Linked DNA regions of Homo sapiens: region 1 is linked to region 2. Evidence: fine-mapped expression QTL. Tissue or cell type: cerebellum. Region 2 holds a variant in brackets; the other region holds the start of a gene. All regions are shown on one strand. Distances are from middle to middle.

The links. PIP is the estimated chance that this variant, and not a neighbour inherited with it, causes the effect. A credible set is the group of variants that fine-mapping cannot tell apart.
Region 1: it holds the start of CSMD2, and the variant in region 2 is the best candidate, but not a certain one, in a credible set for the expression of CSMD2 in cerebellum (GTEx, PIP 0.51).

The regions. Positions count from the first base shown.
Region 1 is chr1:34,162,751-34,166,987 of GRCh38, forward strand. It overlaps CSMD2 (CUB and Sushi multiple domains 2), which reads right to left and starts at 2,480. Exons shown (of 71, transcript NM_001281956.2): 1 at 2,161-2,480. The coding sequence starts at 2,347. RefSeq lists enhancers at 381-510, 931-990.
Region 2 is chr1:34,350,592-34,354,828 of GRCh38, forward strand. No RefSeq gene overlaps it. Among named protein-coding and RNA genes, the nearest start is that of C1orf94, 180 kb to the left of the region's middle. The variant T/C (reference allele first, on the strand shown) is at 2,414.

The DNA of each region.
Region 1 (4,237 bases), 190 kb before region 2:
CGGAAGACTGAGGCAGGAGAATCGCTTGAACCCAGGAGGCGGAGGTTGCAGTGAGCTGAGACCGCGCCATTGCACTCCAGCCTGGGCGAGAAGAGCAAAACTCCGTCTTAAAAAAAATTTAAAAAGAAAGAGAAGAAAAGAAAAGAAATGTACTGGAAGCTTGCAAGCCAGAGCAGGGCCTGCCGGAGAGGAACTACCCCAAGCCATGAACACAAGGCCCCCTCCCCGCAACTTCTCTACTGAGCAAGGAGCTGCGAGCAAATGGATCTCTATAGGGCAGGATTCCAGCACCGCTGAGCGGTGCAAGCGCCGGTGAGTCGGCCTTTTTCTCTCCCCTAGGGGCAGGATATGCCCAAGGGGCAGGGACAAATCTAGCCAGAAAAACAATTCAGTCCGATGCCGAGACATTCTCCAATCAGCTAAGCCAGAGACCGGCCTCGCCTCAACGTACGTCCGGGAGGCCTGGCGGGAGGTAGCAGCGATTCCCCCACCGCCCATGTGGCAAGTCTGGGTGACCAGCAGCGTCGGTATGCACAGCCTCCCAGTGGGTGTGGGTGTGCGAGAGGCCAGAGCTCCCAGGCGCGCGCACCGCGGGCGCCCCTCTCTGGGTGTCGGTGGCTATGACTCTTAGCAGAACCTAAGAAAGTCCCGTCAGCTAGGAATGAGAGAGCCAGAGCTGGCTCGGGGCGCCCTCCCTGACCAAGAACCCCAACATGCCGCGGTTAAGCGGTGGGCGACACGGTCTGCGAGGACAGACTCACAAGACGCTGAAGGCCAGAGTGGGCCAGAGAGCTCGCCACTCACTGACCTGCCAGAGGAGAGGCGCACTTTCCCAAGAAGGGGAACTGGGGTGGTCCAGGCCAAGCCTTCAGAGGTTCAATCGGTGGTTTCAAAACAAAACAAAACAAAACAAAAACAAAAACAAAAAAGAAAACACGGCTCCAGGTCGAAGGTGCCCTAGGTCTAGGCCTGGCCAGCAGGTGTTTCGGTTTCTCCCCCAGTGGGTGTCAGCCTCGCGGGCTAAATGAAAATGCGGTTCCAGGCATCCCGGTTTGGACCCGTCTCCACCCGGGCACACGGAACTTTCTAGCTTGTAGCTAGAACTGAGCTTCGGAGGGGTGCTGTGGGTAAAGCGGGAGGGCACCAGTCGCGGCCAGTAGCCTCCACAGGGGACCGGGTTCCCTCGAAGGTTCGCGTACCTCCCCCGCGCGCTGCAAGCTGCAGCCAGACACCCGCGAAGTTCCGGGACTCTCCGCACCCGCTAGATCTGCCCCTTCCCGGACTCGGTCGTCGGGAGCTGGTCCCGCCGCCCGCGCCGCCGCTGCCGCTGCCGCAGCCGAGGCGCTCGGCTGCAGCAGGGCGCGGGAAAGGGCACTTTGGCGCGGAGTGAGCACCGAGGGGAATGTGGCAGCGCGAAGCCTGGCGGCGGCACTCCCTCCCCCGCCTCGGGCTACAACCCCCACCCCCTCCTTCCCATCCCTCAACACCCTCCAGCCCCCACCTGCACCCTCCTGCAAGGAATGCGCGGGACCCCCACCGTGGGCACGCGTCCACCTGAACCCCCTCCTAGCTCCGAGCGCCGAGGGAGGGGTAGCATTTGAGGAGGGGGATGGCGGCCGCAGTCTGCAGTCGGTTCCAGAGGGGGCACCGGTTTCAATTGGAGAAAATGGGCGGGGGCAGGGAAGGGCAGACCTTGCAGACGCAGAAATGGGGAGGGGGCGCACGGTTCCTCTCCAGCCCCCAGGACCAGCGTGCCTGGCAGAATCAGGAGCCGGGGGAGTAGGGCTCCCGGAAAGTTTATCGGGAAAAAGCCTAGCACCGTGGGGGCTGGGAGGCTGGAGAAACTGAAGCCACAGACCAGGTGCCCCGCAACCCCGGGCGGGGATGTCTGTCTCCCAGGCCCCCACACCGGCCGCATCCGTCCAAGTTGCGGCTGGGGTTGGGGCAGCAGTGAGGGTGAGGGTGGAGGTGAGGACGTGGCTGAGGGTGGGGTGGGAGACGGAGGCAGGGATGAGAATGAGAGTAGGCAACTGGGAGGGTGGGAGATTCAGGCAGGGATAGAGGCGGGGGGAGGGACTGGGACCGGGTCGAGGATGGGTGGGCTCGGGGCTCGGGTGGGGCGCGCGGCGGCCGCTGGCTCCTCGGCGCGGCTGGACTCACCCGCGGCGGCCGAGACGCTGAGCAACCCACAGCCCAGCAACAGCAGCAGAGGCGGCGGCGTTGGCGGCGGCGGGCGGCCCCAGCGGCTCCCGGCGCCCGGCACAAGCGCCGAAATCCCGGTTTCGCCGCGAGCCCTCCCCGCGGGGCAGCCGCAGCGCCCCAGCTCCCGTCCCCGCGAGCGCGGCATGGCGCGGCCGGCAGCGCCGAGGGAGAGGCTCCGCTCGCCGCCGAGGAGAAAGGAGGTCAGGAGAGCTCTGGAGCTTTTTTCTGCTCGGAAAAAATCCCGGTACGCGGGAGCCCTGAGCTTCTGCGGCTGGAATGAACCAAGTGTCCGCCCGGCCGGGGAGAGGCGCGCTGCGCTCTCGGAAATGACTCGCTCCAATCCCGCTTCGCGGGGTTCGCGCCGGGGGGCGGGAGGGGGTGAATTATCCCCGGATTAATCACTCCGGAGCCGCTTCTCCGCCGCTCCAAATGCTGGGGGTGGAGGCGCAGCTAAGGATAAAATATTGGGGGGCGGGGGTTCCTCTTCAGCGCCACCTCCACCTCCAGATAAACCACAAATTACATCTAAAGGGTTGTTTATCCGTGTCTGTTTTGCAATTGACCAGTTTCTTTTAAGTTCAGTCCTCCTGTTTTCATTTATAACATCACCCATTAATACACCCCCCTCTCCACACACACACACACAAACACACACACACACACACAGTGACAGAGACACACGCACTCACACACACAGGCACATACACGCACACCTCTTCCACGTTTGGAAATTGGAATCCTGTCTGGGAAAAGGTAACCAAAGAAGGACGCGTTCCCCAAGTCTTGGCTCTTACCAGCTGATCTTGGGTGGTGGCTTTGAACTTGCCATCTAGGGCCGGGGGCGATGCTTATGAGCCTCATTCACAATAGCCTCCTACCCCATCCCAGGAGAGGGGCGTGTGTGCGTAGACAGAGGCAGGGTTAAGAATTGGAGGGCGGTGGAGGGGGGTTGTGTGTGGGGTGGGGAGGGGGGGGAACCGGTTCATTTGACCCAGTGCGGTCCCACTCCTACCCTAAGACAAAAATCTCAGGGTGGCAGAGGCGGTCCCTGTGTGCACGCGAGTTGGGGGTGGGGAGTGAGGTTGGTGGAAGGACGGTGCAAGAGTTACTAGTACAATTTATCCCCAAATTTAAATAATCGGATCCTACTTCTTCTTCTCCCCTTCCTCCTCCCAGCCAAGGCCCCAAACCAAGAGAGTTCTTCCCAAGGACGTGAGCTGCTCCCCACCTCTCCCCAGTAGCGGCTGCCTCTAGGCCCCAAGGGCTTAGTGTCGGTCCCCACCCCATCCCCCACCCGACTCGGTCGCCGTCTCTGTCTCGTCTACTCCAGGCTTCTCCGCCAGTCACGATGGCTCCTTCGCTGTCTACGCCAAACTCTCGGCGAGAGGGAAGAGACGCTTCATGGGGGGAGGCTGGAGGAAACTGGGAGGGGCAAGGTCCAGAGAGGAGGCTTCTGCTGGCGCGTGCAGTGGAAAGGCACCTGCGATGGGCACCCCCGCCCCCTTTGCCGACACACCCCAGAGAAGCTGTGCTCCGGGCTTAGGGCAGCCTGATTTGGCCAAAACGGAGCGTTGGCATCTGTGTGGCCAAGGGGGCAGTGGCCGGCGGGCGGTGGGGCCTGAGAATTTCCGGGGAAGGGTGTGGAGAGGGACTGTAGGGATGGCGAGCCAGGCTGGGGGTGGCTGGCGACCCAGGTTGGCCGGCTGTCAGCGTGGCCAGGAATTTCCATCCAAGGAAGGGTGTGAAGAGGGGCTGTGGAGTTGACGATATGAATTGGGGGGCGGGGGCAGGGCTGGAGGAGTGGAGGCTTGTCCCTACTCCCCATGAAAAACTTCCTCCCCAGAGCCACGCTTTCGCAGCCTCCTAGATGCCACTCTTCCTCCCTCCCCCCACCCCAAGTTGTTCCGGTTTCCCTGCATGAGCTCATCCCACAGCTGGGGAGCCAGCCCGGTGGCCCTGGGCGGGCGAATCTCCTCAGAATCGCGGGCCTGGTCCCCACCCCCAACACGCTTGTATGCCCGCCCCTCCCGACGCC
Region 2 (4,237 bases):
TGAGAGCGGGGGCATTGATGGAACCATTTCAGCAACTGCATAATACATCATGGCACAAACAGAACTGCATCAGGGCCTCACTAACAGATATGGCATAGAGTAGAGGGGGAAGAGACAGACTTCTTCCTCAAATTTTCTGCCATGCAGAATGGCAGAGTGGAGGCTCCAGTGCAGTGGCAGAGAATGCAGTGTCTGGTGGTTCCACTGTAGGAACATGGTTGCTGGTGAACAGCAACAGTAGAGACCATGGAACCTGGCAAAGCCGGGGGAAAAAGCAGGGAAAAAGCAAGGAAAAGCAACTATGAGCCAAGATGACAGGACCCCTGGGAACCCACAGAAATATTTGTAAGAGGCTAGAGATTATGCCCCAGCATTTGGGGACAACAAATCTGTGAAATCTGAGTAGTTATGAGTAATGTGGTCCCATTTGTACCTACAGGTAGGCAAAGCCTGTGGTGGTCCCTGTTACACTACTTCGCAAGGTTATTGCACAGACATGTGGTGATATGTTTAAAGAGCTTGGTCCATTGTAGGTCTTTAAAATAAGAGTTATAATAAGAATACTATTACTGTTGCTACTGAGGTAATTATCATGGCACAGATTTAGGCAGGTATGTTGATGGCCACCAGTTCTGGCTGGTTGAGCAAAAAGCATGCTGAGAGGAAGAGAGAGAAACCCAAATCCTAGTTTTCTAAGTTTGCATCAATTTCACACATTTCCAGCCCAATGCTCTGGAAGGAGGAGGGTGGTCTGGCCTGCTGACAGCTGCCCATAGCTGTAGCATGACAGGCCAGGGACTGGCAGGAAGGCAGCAAAGGAAATAGAGGGAGCTGAGGGATAAGCCACATGGACACAGAGCCCTGGCTAGGCCACATGAAGTCCTTGAGGGCTTCTGTGACAAGCTCATGCTGTGTTTTCTGTTGGAATGGGGTTGTGGAAGTAACATGTATCAATACTGATTGTGTGCCAGGTGGTAGGACCTCGTACTGAAGAGGACATGGTCTGCTAGGGGCATCTGTTCCTTGTGCCACTCAGCATCCTCACTCCTCTTCTGGTTGCTTCTCTCTGGACAACCATCCCCTTAACTAGCCTAAACTTAAATCAATCACTGTGGCCTTCTACTGGCTATGGTGGTTGAATCAGGGAGGAGCATAAAGTCTGATCAGAACCTGCAGGTACAATGAATCTTTCTTGGGGAATCTGAGATGTTTCCTTGGCTAGGCTAGAAGCAAAGAGGGTGTGACTGCTGGAACTGCTACAACGCTCTTCCTACCACAGGGGAAATTCCTGTCTGAGAAAGGAGCCAACCTTGAAGACAAAAGTACAGAGATAGAAAAAGAAACCAGGACATGCATGGTGAAATTCCTTGAGCCTCTGTACCAAACTGCACCTGAGGCAAGTCCTATTTCCTGGAACTTAAGAGTTACAAGAGCCATAGATTTCCTTCCACTTCATCCAGTTTGGATTGGGCTTTCTTTAACCTGCAATTGAAAGAAAATTGACTGAAACCAAATCACTACCTTCAGAGGGCTTTACTCTCTAGGTGGGGAGAGAAACAAGAAAAGAGGTAGTTTGCTAGACTTTCATAGCTTCTCCATGAGACAAACATGGGCTGTGGGAGCCACCAGGGCTATGTATGAGTGGAGTGTCCCTCAGTCCTTAAGAAGAGGGTGGGCTGACATGTCGGAGTTGGGTGGTTGGTGTAATAGCAGAGAATACCTTTGTTCTCACGAGTCAACATTCTCAGTTACTTCCAGCCATTTACTACTTCCAGTCTCTAATGCCTTCTAGTACCTCTATCCCCTGCTTTTAGATAACTTACCTAATATCCACCCATCTATCTCTCTATCCATCCATCCACCCAAGCATAACTACAGTGTTGCCATCTCTTCCAGCAGGAAAGCTAAATCAGCATGGTCTATGTTTAAGGTCCTAGGAGTTCCATGCAGTTATGCCTTGGGTGCAAGGTCAATTCAAGACATCATCATGTAGGGCAGCCAACTCTCTCTACCTTGAAGCTGACAGAAAGTTTTTGGAGGGGAAATTTAGCAAGATCCAGAGGGAGGGACAGACAGGAGGGAGAAAACCAAGGTGGAAGGTCGTCTTCGTAGGACCACAGCCTCTGCTCTGAGTCAGGTGTTCTTGATGACAAGAACATCCTGCTGACTCTTCTGGGAGCAAGGAGTGGGGCTCTTCTTTTCTCGTGCAGTAAGTTTTGCATGAGAGATGTGAGGTTAAAAGGCAGACTTACTAATTATGCTGCTCATTCATACCTTCATTCAGCTCATTGCCAGTCCTGTGCTAGTCGCAGAGATGCCCGGGACTCATCCCTGCCCTCAAACAACAGATGGTCTCATACTAACAATTGCTTCATGCTGGGAGTCTTCTGTGGTACTCAGGTGAGTTCCTCTC[T/C]GGCTATCAGTCCTCAGCGCCAAACATGAGATGAATCCAAGTCTGGCTTCTCTCAGAGTTGAGGGTCCAGTCCTGATGCAAATAATACTAATAATTTCATTATTTTTGCTAATTCTGCCAAATCCCATTATTTTGGCACTTTACTTTCTAAATACAAAGTAATTCTTGGTTAATTTAGAAAATTTGGACTGCACACAGGAAAATACAAAGGAAATAAAAGTCAGTAACCCACTGCCAAGTGAAAAATCAAGTTAACATTTGGAAAATACATGTTTCTAGGTATATACACACACACACATTCATAGTGTTGTCTATATTGTTTTATGGCCTGCTTTTTTTCACTCAGCCATACATTATATTCTCTTATGTCAGTAAATATTCTTCTACAACTTTGTTTTAATTATTCCATAGTATCCCTTATTATGGATATTTCATAATTTATTTAGCCAACTGCCTGTGGTTGGATATGCAGGTTATTTTTAGTTTTCATTAACATAAATAATGCTTTATTGAATATACTTATACATACATAATTGCACATATATTCCCCTTGATCATTAAGACAAATTCCTAAAAGTAAAATTGCTGAGTCAAGGCTATGGATGCACATTTTTAAGGCTTTTGACAGATATTGCCAAATTGCCCTCTAAAAAGATTACACCGATTTAAGCTCCCTCCAGCAGTGTACAAGAATGCCCAATTCCCTATACTTGTTGTTGATTTAATTTGCATATCTTTGTTTCCAGTGAGATTAAATTTTTTCTTATATGTGTATTGTCTATCTGTAATTTTTCTTTCGTGAATTGCCTATTGATGTCAATTGCCTATTTTTTATGGGGGTGCTTATCTTTTCCTTTTTGACTTCTGAGAACTCTTCTTGTACATCAACCTTTTGTCTATAATATATGTTTATTATATTTTCCCCAGTGTCTCATTTGCCTTTTAATTTTGCTTTTGATGTTTTTTAACCCAGTGAGGAATTTGTTTTTAACTAATCAAATTCATTAATCTTTTCCTTAGTTTTTGCTTAGAAATGCTTGAATGCTTAGTAATGTGTAGAAAGGCCTAACCACCCCAAGTTGATATAAACGTTCTCCTAGAATGTTCTGCTCATTCTTTTACGGTTTAAATTCTTTTGTATTTAACCCTTTAACCACCTGAAATTATTATGTTGCTTGTTATGCAGTAAAGCTGTAATGGCTATAACTTTAATTATTTTCCCAAAGAGTTAAGAAACTTTCCCAATGCTGTATCACCCTTTCTCCCCTGTTTTGAAGCAAATCTATGGGTGTAAACAATACCTGCTAGCTCTAGAGATAACAGTGATTTATTTGAATGGAGTTGTAAACTGAAGATGTGGTGGGGGCATCTTTGCCTCAGTTGGGTCCCTGGAGTCTATGGCTATTTATCCAACAATATTTACGAAGTGCCTACAATGTGCACTCTGGGAGGTGCTGGGAAAAGAGGGGAGTAAGAGAACATTTCTGCTCAGTCTTTCTGGTGTCTGTACCAGATATGTAGGAGATGCTGTGGTGTATCATGCAGAGCCCTCTACAGGACACAGCCAAGGCACTTATTTACCGAGTGGTCAAGAATGTTACCTGCTGACAGCTTACAGTTCCCTCCCTAGAATTTCCCTCCTTCCCCCAAAGGGTACTGCCTGGCCCAAGTTATGTACACTCCCTGGGGACAGCCCAAATCCTACAACTGGTCTATGAGTAGAATCAAAGGCCCAACCCCCTTACCTTAATTCAGGACAACTCTGAAGGGCCACCCAGCTCCAGCGCTCCCTGTGGGAACTGCTGAGGTCTCCATTAAAACTAC